Linked DNA regions of Homo sapiens: region 1 is linked to region 2. Evidence: fine-mapped expression QTL. A gene starts in region 2. The other region holds a variant in brackets. All regions are shown on one strand. Distances are from middle to middle.

The links.
Region 1: its variant is fine-mapped to the expression of DNPH1 in vagina (GTEx, PIP 0.99).

Annotation. Positions count from the first base shown.
Region 1 is chr6:43,963,869-43,969,236 of GRCh38, reverse strand. No RefSeq gene overlaps it. Among named protein-coding and RNA genes, the nearest start is that of LINC03040, 34 kb to the left of the region's middle. RefSeq lists an enhancer at 3,720-4,219. The variant TC/C (reference allele first, on the strand shown) is at 1,997.
Region 2 is chr6:43,227,053-43,232,420 of GRCh38, reverse strand. It overlaps DNPH1 (2'-deoxynucleoside 5'-phosphate N-hydrolase 1), which reads left to right and starts at 2,940. Exons shown (of 4, transcript NM_006443.3): 1 at 2,940-3,160. The coding sequence starts at 2,965. RefSeq lists silencers at 2,642-3,081, 3,142-3,331 and an enhancer at 2,659-3,158.

The sequences.
Region 1 (5,368 bases), 740 kb before region 2:
CCCTGGGCAAATGAGGAGCTTTCCCCCAAGCACACAGCCAGGAAGACTGTGTTCATTGCAGTCCTCTCCCCACTCTACCCAGGTCGCAGGAAAGCACTGGCAGTTTGCAGGATCCCTGAGCCTGAGCCATAGGTGCCGAAAAAGCAGCTGATTGACTGTCCTTTATAACTTCAAAGCAAGTAGCATCATCTTTGTCTCCTTAAGATCCAACATGGAGTTTAAGAGAGAAGTCAGAAAGAACCTGCTGACAGTAGGAAATGAGGGAAACTGTGGAATTCACTTTTCTGAGGGCATTTTAACTAACAGATACGCAAGCAAGTCTGCCTAGTCCAGCAGTTCAGGTTGTCTGCTGTATCAGAGGATGAAATTTCTTTAATTCAAACTGACATTTTCAAAAGGGTTGTGGGGGTGGGTGCTGTGGACTAGCCACCCTTGTACCATGCTTTGACTGGTCTGGCCTGGGAGAGAAGCGGTGGTGCCCGTCCCTACTCTTGCTCCTGGCCTTGTCTGCTCCCTGCCTTGCCCCCCTGCCCACCTTGGCTGCCTCCGGTCTCCCGTGATTGAAATCTCCCTGCTGGTCTCAGAGCTGACCTTCCCGCCTTTAATTCAATCAGGAATCACAAGCCCTTTTAATATAGGAAATAAAAGGCTGGCTGCTGAGCAGGCTGCACCTGATTGACGGGGCTGCCAGCTTGGTCAGGCTGGCCTGGGGAGGGGGCATAGACCCGTGACCTCAGCTGGCCTCTCTGGGGTAGGAATGCTCCCCCGAGCCTGGGGAACAAAGGAGGACCACCCCCCTCCTGATTCCCAGCAGAGGAGGGACCAAGGCCACATGGTAGGGGGTGGCTGCTGGCTGGCCCAGAGAAGCTGGGGAATGTCAAGCTCTCACTGCAGCCTGAGGGACTTGGGGTAGACACGAGGGAGGACTTTGCAACTGACTAATTCCTCTGTTCTTGTTATGTGATTCTGGGTTGATGCTCCAAAGTATTGCAACAACGCATTTTTATTTTCCAAAAAAGTAGAAGGGGTGCCAGAGGAATCAATGCTAGCTTTTCTGGACTTTGGTTTCTCATCCATATATAAAGGTGGGCAGGGACCCAGCCACCGGGCTGTTGTGAGCATTAAATGAGTTAATGAAAGCTCACTGGCACATAATAATCGCTCATTAAATTATAGCTAATAACATTCTTAATAATTTATTCTTCTAGAGGCATACAGAGGTCTCCACTTCTACTTGGAAGTGGAGGAGACTTGGGGGAGAGAGTCCAGGGTCCTGGGCCCTGTTGCTTGCTTTCTCTCCTTGGAGACAGCCCAGGACAGGTCCCGTCAGCACCTAGGTTCCTTCCCCGGGGGAGGCAGGCTGGGGCAGTGGAAAGCTGCCTGCTCAAGGAGTAGAATTCTGGTTCAGCATATTTTGGCCTCACTTCTCTGAGCCTTAGTTTCTTCCTTTGGAAAATGGGCTAGTAGCACCTACCTGGTAGGATTGCTTTGATGCTCTTTAAAGTGCCCAGGCCAGAGCCTACCAAGTATTAATAGGAGGTGCTCAGATTGTGGTACCTCTCTCTCCTGAGCCCCCAATCAAGTGCTCAGCCCAGCCTACCCGAGTGGTTTTGGCTTCCATCCTGAACCTACCCTGGCCCTATGGGAAACCCCATTTCCCTGTGATCTGAAGCTGAGCTCTAAGAGGCCACTACCCTGTTCCTGTTCAACCATATTGCATAAATGTCCTATGGCCTGATTCCCACAGGGTTCTGCCTGTGGCCAGGATCTGCCTCAGATGCTCCTTCCACTGTGGCTGGTTTTACTTTCCAGAGGTGAATGAGCCTGTAGAATGAACCACCTTAGGGCAGGCGGAGATGGCTGGCAGCTCCCCATGTGTGTACAGCCCAGTGCCTAGCATGAAGAGATGCTCAAGGAGGTCTCTCCCCAAAGTCTGCCCCACCCTCCTGTCCTAGGCGTATTATAAAAACATATACTATAACATCATTCTTTGGTT[TC/C]TCAATAAGCAATGCTACACAGCTCCTGTATAAAATATGTTTGGCGATAAAGGTAATAGTCACAGTGGACGCCCACTTGAGCTTCAGGCTTACTCCGTGCTAGACTTGGTGTTGAGTGCTTGAGACACACTGTCTCTCTCCTACTTCCCTATGAGGTAGAGATTGCACTGCATCTTTGAGGAGACTGACACTCAAAGAGGTTGAGTAACTTCTCCAAGCTGACCCAGCTACTAAGCAGCAGTGCTGGGATCTGAATCCAAGCCCATTGTCAGCCCTCTGCAGACTTGGCTGGGCAGTTCGTAGAAGAGTCTCACGTCCGTTGTTGCATTTGATGGCGTAGCAACCTCAGGGTTTTGCCAAGTGTGTGATTGTCATTATTATGATCCCATCCTACAGGAGAGGAAATGGAGATTCCCACATCACACAGTAAGTAAAGATGGGACAGGGACTTGCACTTCCGCACTGTGCTCAGGTCTCCACTGTAAGCACAGCCTCCCTCCTGGTTTAAAAGCATTCCCTTACTGCTTAACATCAGTGTTCCAACGGGATAGTTCATTCATCCATTTGGTAAATATTTATCAGGCACCTACTATATTTTAGGCCCTGTGTGGGAGATTAGTGCTGAACAAGCCAGAACCTGTTCCCTTCCTGAAGCTTTCCATCTCTGTGGGTGAGAAAAACTTGAAATAACTGCACACACAAAAATGATAAAAACTGTGATAAGTATTGTTCTTGAGGTGGGGTGGGTGGGTGATCAGAGAAGAACATTGAAGTGTGAATGCAGATCAGCCCTGGAAAGTGGGTTTGGAGGCTGGGAAGAGCAGTCTAGGCAGAGGCTCTGAGACAAGAGTGAGCCTGTGAATAAGGGTGGAGGCACTCAGAGGAAGAGCAGGAGGAAAGGGGCCAGAGCCTACATGGCCTGGGGGGCTCACCCTCACCCTAAGAGGAGGGCCTAAGGTTGGTTTTTATTTCAGGATAGTAGAGAGGAGAGTGGAGGGGGCTGAGTGGGTACAGGGACCTCAGTCAGGAAGCAACCTTAGTGGTCCAGGCACAGGGCTGAAGGGGGCTGGAGGGGAGGAAAAAGGAGATGGGGCTGAGTAGCTCTACCCACACCCCCCATCCAGGGCCTTTCTAGCCCTTTCCCAGGTGCTTGCTGCTGTGGTCAATGTTCAGGGTACCCTGACCCCCAGGCAGTGGCTGGTTATTGTTTCACGACCAGCTCTCTGGGTGAAAAAGTCCTCTTTTGTAGCATTTGCCAATTTCTGTGGTGTAAATACTCCCACCATGGCTGACTTCAGACTACCAACCTGAAGTCAATGGATAAGCAGTTGGGAAGAAAAGTTTACAACTGTCCAAGCTGCAGCAGATTGGCTCCAACACACTACTGCCCTCAGGTCTCAGAAAGGCAGTAGTTCTGATGAAGTGCCATTGGTATACGTCTCACCCTCTATGTAATTCCCGATTCCTGTGTGTATATTGGGGGTTGGGGGAGTAGAGAGGGTGAAGGCTGGATGAGGAGGGGTGTGGGGGAAGGGAGGTTGGTAAGGAATTAATAATAATGACCACTCCCTCTAGTCTTTCTGATGACTCCAAGAGATTGGTACTATTATTAATCCCACTTCATAGATGAAGAAACTAAGACACACATTGAATAACTTGTCCAAGGTCTCACAGCAATAAGGGACAAAACTGGGAACTCAAACCACCTCATTCCTGGGGTGAAGACTTTGCCCTCCTGAATCTCTGCCCTGTCCTGCCTGTGAGCTGGCTAAGAGGGAGGGAGATGGGGGAGAGTTAGGAGGGGACAATGAATGGAGGAAGAGCTAGCTAGGAAGAAGGAGGAAGCTGTCAGCAGCAGGAGGTTGGGGGGTGGGGTGTCATTTGAAATTATCTGGTTGGAATCCTAATGTGGGCGAGGTGGGAGGTTGGAGTGGCCTCTACAAGTCAGTCTGGGGTGAACCAGGATTTTTAAAAGGAGATTATGAGCTTCCACTGAGAATGTTCCCGGGAGAGGGTGCAGCAAGTTGGGGTGGGCAGGGGTCAGGCACCTGGAAGGCCCCACACACACACACCAGGTACTGCCACAGAGAGGGGGCACCAGGCCAGAGTCCACACAGCCTGCTGCCTCCAGATTTGTAAGGCAAGTGACTCTACAGCCCCGACAGCTCAGCAATGACATGGGAGCAGTCGGGTCAGCCCAAGCAGCCCTGGAACAGCTCCAGTCAAACAGGGATTGCTGGCCCCTCTCCCACCCCCCACCTTCCCTGCTGTGCCCACCCCACACCCAAGGTCAATGACCTAGTGTTTGGCAACATCCTCCAGGGCCCAGTGCAGATTGGGCAAGGTAGGTGGGAGTGGGTGGACGTGGGGATGGGGCTTGGCCAGGGAGCCAGGATAGCCAGTGAGTCCTCCCCTCAACCAAGTGATCTGCAAGAGTTGGGCTCAGCTCTCCCACCACCTGAGTTCTCTGCTCTGCAAAGGCTGGTGGCTCACTGGCAGCTCCTCGCAGAGCACCAGGCTGCAGCTTATACACTCCCACATCCACAGCCTGCTCCTCCATGCACTATCATTCCCTCTCAGCTCCCCTCTCTCCTTCCTCCCTGCTTGGCTCAGAATTGCCATTGTGCTTTTGACATTTCCTTTTCAAAGTTCTTTCCGGCCCTGGGAAGAAAGTCCTGCTTGTGTTCTAAAGACCTAGTGTCCTCTCTTTGGCCCTCAGTTTCCCCATCCTGCACAATGGAGAGAAGTTCTCACGAGACTCTGTGAACCCATTAAGCAGTCAGCATATTGTGTATGTCTGGGGTCAGGGGAGCATCATCCTTCAAACCTACCTGCTTGGTGCTAAGCACACAGTAGGTGCTTTATGGATTGGTTGGTGAGTCTGCCTTGCCTGGAAGTTGGGGATGAGGAATCTTCTAAGGGGCAATGGGCTTGCACCCAGTGGTCATCCTAGGGATGGTATGGGAGTGGCCATGCTGTCTTTGTCCTTTCAAGGAGCCCCTGGCTATTCTGCTTAATTGCTATTATACTCATCATCCCATTTTACAAATGAAAGACCAACCCGGAAGAGGTTACATTGCTTCCCCGAAGTCCCTCAGCTAGTATGTGGCAGAGCCAAGATTTGAACTCAGGCAGCCTGGCTCCAGGGCCCACAAACTTAACCGGTGGACGACATGCCCTTCCTTGTAGTTGAAGTCAATGATTTCCAAAGTGGGAAGAGCTTATATACATATAATACATATATATAAGTTTATAATATATATGTTATATATTATATATATATACTTGATATATAATATATATTATATAATATATTATATATAATATATACTTTATATATAATATATATTATATATTATATAATATATATA
Region 2 (5,368 bases):
GCTGTGAAATACATCCTCTCATTTAAACCACTCATTCATTCAACAAATATTTAATAAATGTTTCTTATGTGCCAGGCATAGTTCTAGAAACCAGGGATAGGCTAGGCACAGTGGCTCACACCTGTAATCCCAGTACTTTGGGAGGCTGAGGTGGGAGGATTGCTTGAGCCCAGGAGTTTAAGATAAGCCTGGGCAACATAGTGAGACCCCATTTCTATAAAAAATTAGCCAGGCATGGTGGCACTCGCCTGTAGTCCCAGCTATTCAGGAGGATGATGAGGGAGGATTGCTTGATCCTAAGAGTTTGAGGCTGCAGTGAGCTGTGACCATGACACTGCACTCCAGCCTGGGTGACAGAGCAAGACACCATCTCTTAAGAAAGAAAAGAAAGAAAGAGAAAAAAAGAGAAAGAAAGAAAGGGAGGAAGGAAGGGAGGGAGGAAGGGAAAGAAAGAAGAGAGAGAGAGGAAGGAAGGAAGGGGAAAGAAGGAAGAAAGAAGGAGAAAGAAAGAAAAAGAAAGAAAGAAAGAAGAAAGAAGGAGGAAGGAAGGAAGGAAAGGAAGGACGGGAGGGAGGAAGGAAGGAAAGAAAGAAAAAGAAAGAAAGAAGAAAGAAAGAGAAAGAAGGAAAGAAAGAAAAGAAAGAAAGCAGGAATACAGCAGTGAACGACCTTCTACTAGGTATAGAAAAACATGCAACAAAATTAATAAGTTATATGGTGTATGAGAAGGAGAAAAGGCAAGGTAGGGAAGGGTGATAGAGAGTACTGGGGGATGGAGGGCTGCCATATTGAATAGGGTGATCAGGGAAGGTGAAGTGTGAACAAAGACTTGAAGGAAATGAGGAGTGAGCCAGGAAGCTACCTGGGAGAACAGTGTTCCGGGCAGAGGGAACAGCAAATGCAAAGACTCTGAGGCAAGGGCATGGCTGACATGCTTAAGGAACAGCCAGGAAGCCAGTGAGGTGGCAGAGAAGTGAATGAAAGTAATAGAAGCTGGAGTTAGGGAAGTAAGAGGGTGACAGGATCATCTGGAGCCTTGTGAGCTACTGTGAGGTTTTCAGTTTTTACCCCAAGTGAGATGGGAACCACTGGAGGGTTTTGAGCAGAGGAGGGTCATGACCTAGATCACTCAAGCTGCTGAGTGGAGAGCAAACTGTAGCAGGGAAGGGCCAGGGGAGGTGTATAGAGAACCCTTGACATAAGTAATTCCATCTTAGAAAGACTCCATCACTGGGCACATTCGCTTATGCCTGTAATCCCAGCGCTTTGGGAGGCTGAGGTAGGGGGATTGCTTGGGTCTAGGAGTTTTGAGACCAGCCGTGGAAACATAGTGAGACCTCGTCTCTACAATTTTTTTTTTTTTGAGATGGAGTTTCACTCTGTTGCCTAGGCTGGAGTGCAGTGGCGTGATCTTGGCTCACTGCAACCTCTGCCTCCCGGGTTCAAGCGATTCTCCAGCCTCAGCCTCTGGAGTAGCTGGGACTACAGGAGTGTGCCACCACGCCTGGCTAACTTTTTGTATTTTTAGTAGAGACGGGGTTTCACCGCGTTAGCCAGGATGGTCTCGATCTCCTGACCTCGTGATCTGCCCACCTCGGCCTCCCAAAGTGCTGGGATTACAGACATGAGCCACCGAGCCCAGCCAATTTTTTTTTTATTAGCTCAGCATGGTGGCACGTGCCTGTAGTCCTAGCTACTCAGGAAGCTGAGGTGGGAGGATTCCTTGAACCCTCAAACTTGAGGCACGAGTTTGAGGCTGCAGTGAGCAATGATCGTGCCTCTGCACTCCAGTGTGGGCGACAGGGACCTTGTCACCAAAAATAATAAATAAATAAATAAATAAAGTTTTAAAAAACTTCATCTTACATTTCAAAAGGCATCAAGCCAACAGGGTCCAGATGTTCGCCTAACCAATGGAGACAACACCCAACCAGATAAGGGCATCACCCTTTACTATAAGTCCTCATCAGAGGACTCAAGGACCATAAAATGATCAGGACTTCAGCAGCTAGACACGGCCACCTTAACAGACCGAGTCTTGCTATCACTCGTGCCCAGCACCTGGTGTCTGCCTCTGAAGGCTCTGCCCAAATCAAGGACTCTTCCTTGCAAGCTCTTGATGACTATCCCCATCAGGCCGGGACTCTGTCCACAGCACTCTCCTTGGACTGGTTCGTTAACCCCTTTTCTCTTGATGTTAAATGTTCTTGTGTTTGATGTGAAATTTTAACCTGTAACATTTATATCCTTACATATAATACTATGGATGGTTTGCAATACAGTCTGACTTGTGGAGTGGCTCCAGCTTGCATGCCCGCGGCTCTGACTACCGAGTGAACAGGTGGTCCTAAGGAGAACTGACTTCTTGGGAACTCCGTGTGACGCCTAGCTTTTGTGATTGAAATAGCATCAGTAAAAACCTGATCTTGTGGACAGACACAAAGGTGGGTGGACCTGGTTCTGTCTGACCTTGAGCAGCTCACGACATGTGGACACCTGTTAGGAGGCTGTGGAGAGCCCAGAGGAGGCTTAGACCAGGGTGGTGGCCCTGTAGGCGGTCGTGAGATTTCAGATTTGGAAGGACGAATCCACACGAGTTGTCAATGGATGGGACGCAGAGTTTGAGAGAAAGGGAACGATCCAGATGACTCCGAGGGTCTTGGGCCTGAGCAGCTGGGAGGATGCAGCTGGGGAAGACGGCGGGGAGGAGGGGAGCAGAAGCGGGTGAGGTGGGGAAGCCCTCGAGTTCTGCCTGGACAAGGTCAAGTTAAGGTGCGTGTTAGGCATCCGAACGTCAAGTCCAGGAAGGGTGTGTTCCCGAAAGGGTCCCGGCTGGATCCTCCCAGTTCGTCGTCCCCATTCCACAGGTGTGGACTCAGCAGCCGGGCTCTGCGCTGGGCCGGGCGGGGTCACGTGGCCGCGGGCTGGCGCCCCCTGGCGCCGGAGAGCGCGGGCGGCTGGGGAATGGCTGCTGCCATGGTGCCGGGGCGCAGCGAGAGCTGGGAGCGCGGGGAGCCTGGCCGCCCGGCCCTGTACTTCTGCGGGAGCATTCGCGGCGGACGCGAGGACAGGACGCTGTACGAGCGGATCGTGTCTCGGCTGCGGCGATTCGGGACAGTGCTCACCGAGCACGTGGCGGCCGCCGAGCTGGGCGCGCGCGGTGAGGCCCTGGGGCCGCGGGACGCGGGGACGCGGGCGCGGACCTGGCTGGGGTGGCAGGGACCCGGCCTGTCCGCCCCCCCGACCCCCGGCAGCTGCGCTCCCGGCGCCCGGAGCCCGCCCTCCTACCCCGGTGCTCCATCCAGCGCCCCAGCCCGAGAAGGAAACGGGCCGGGGCTCGGGCTGCGTGGGTCCCAGCAAGCCTGCGGGTGTAAGGCAGACTCAGCATTATCTTGACCTTTGGTTCCTTCTTGGAGAACTCTGTCTTCAGCTGCTTTCAGAGCGTTTGTAGGGTGCAACAGAAAGAAGGTAGATTGGGCTGCTTTGCTTGGGCTCAGTTCCCACCTCACCCGCTGGAATCTTTTCCACCACCCAACACGAAAGGTATCCTCCTGCCTCCCCACCAACTTTTTTTGTTTTGTTTTGTTTTGTTTTTGAAACGGAATCTCACTCTGTCGCCCAGGCTGGAGTGCAGTTGCGTGATCTCGGCTCACTGCAACCTCGACCTCCCGGGTTCAAGTGATTCTCTTGCCTCAGCCTCCCGAGTAGCTGGGACTACAGGCACGCGTCACCACACCCGGCTACTTTTTGTATTTTTAGTAGAGACGGTGTTTCACCATATTGGTCAGGCTGGTTTCGAACTCCTGACCTCAGGTGATCTGCCCGCCTCGGCCTCCCAAAGTGCTGGGATTACAGACAGGAGCCACCGCCCAGGGCCTGCCTCCCCTTTTTCTGTGAAGACATCAGCACTCTTTTAGACCTGGCTGACCCCAGTTCTCACTATTACCCTCTCTCACATTTTTGTTTTGTTGATACAAGGGCCTCTCTGTCGCCCAGGCTGGAGTGCAGTGGTGCGATCATAGCTCACTGCAGCCTCGGCTTCCTAAACTCATGATCCTCCAGCCTCAGCCTCCTATTAGCAAGGACTGCAGGGGCACGACACCATGCCTGGCTCAAAATTTTTCTGTAGAGATTGGGAGTCTCACTATGTTGCCCAGTCTGGTCCCGACCTCCTAGCCTCAAGTGATCCTCCCGCCTCAGGCCTCCCGAAGTGCTGGGACTATAGATGTGAGCCCCCATGCTGGCCTCATATTCTCTTTCAGGCCATTATTGTGTTCTGCTCCTGGCTGCTGGGTTTTTCTTTCTCTTTCTATTTATTTAGTTATTTATTTGGAAACAGTCTTGTTCTATTACCCATGCTGGAGTGCAGTGGCAAAATCTCAGCTCACTGCTAACCTCTGCCTCCCGGGCTTGAGCAATCCTCCCACCTCAGCCTCCCAAGTAGCTGGGACTACAGGTGTGTGCCGCCATACCTGGTTAAGTTTTGTATTTTTTATAGGGACGGGATTTTGCCATGTTGGCCAGGCTGGTCTTGAACTCCTGAGCCCAAGTGATCTGCCTGCCTCAGCCTCCCAAAGTGTTGGGATTACAGACATGAGCCGCTGAGTCTGGCTGGATTTCTCTAAAGCATATTTGATGTGCTGGTCTGGAATCTTGCAGATCCTTCCAGTTTGAAAATTGTATCTTGAATGCTTGTGCTTCTGCTCAGAAAACCTTAAGTGGTTTCCACTTATCCTACCCAAGAGCAGACCCACAATTTGTGGGACCTCATGCAATTCTGGGAGACCTCTTTAAAAAGACAAAAATCACAATACAAAGTTGCTGATGGTTTGGAAAGGGCCTGTGCAAGTGGAGGACCCTGAAGCTTACAGCTCATTAGTTCATGGTATATCCAGACTGCCTGGTGGCTCTCCAGGTCTTTAGTGTCATCTGAGGGAGCCTGTTAAAAATGCAGGTTCTGATCATCTGGGATAAAGCCTTCGAATATGTACTTTTTTTTTTCCCCCAAGACAGAGTCTTGCTCTGTCGCCCAGGGTGGAGTGCAGTGGAGTGATCTCCGCTCATTGCAACCTCCTCCTCCCAGGTTCAAGCAATTTTCCTGCCTCAGCCTCCCGAGTAGCTGGGATTACAGGCGCCTGCTACCACGCCTGGCTAATTTTTTAATTTTTAGTGGAGATGGGGTTCCACCATGTTGGCCAGACTGGTCTCAAACTCCTGACCTCGTGATCCTACCGCCTTGGCCTCCCAAAGTGCTGGGATTACAGGCGTGAGCCACCGCGCCTGGCCCGAATCTGTACTTTTTCTTGTTTTTTTTAAGATGGAGTTTTGCTCTGTTGCCCAGGCTGGAGTGCAGTGGTGCGATCTCAGC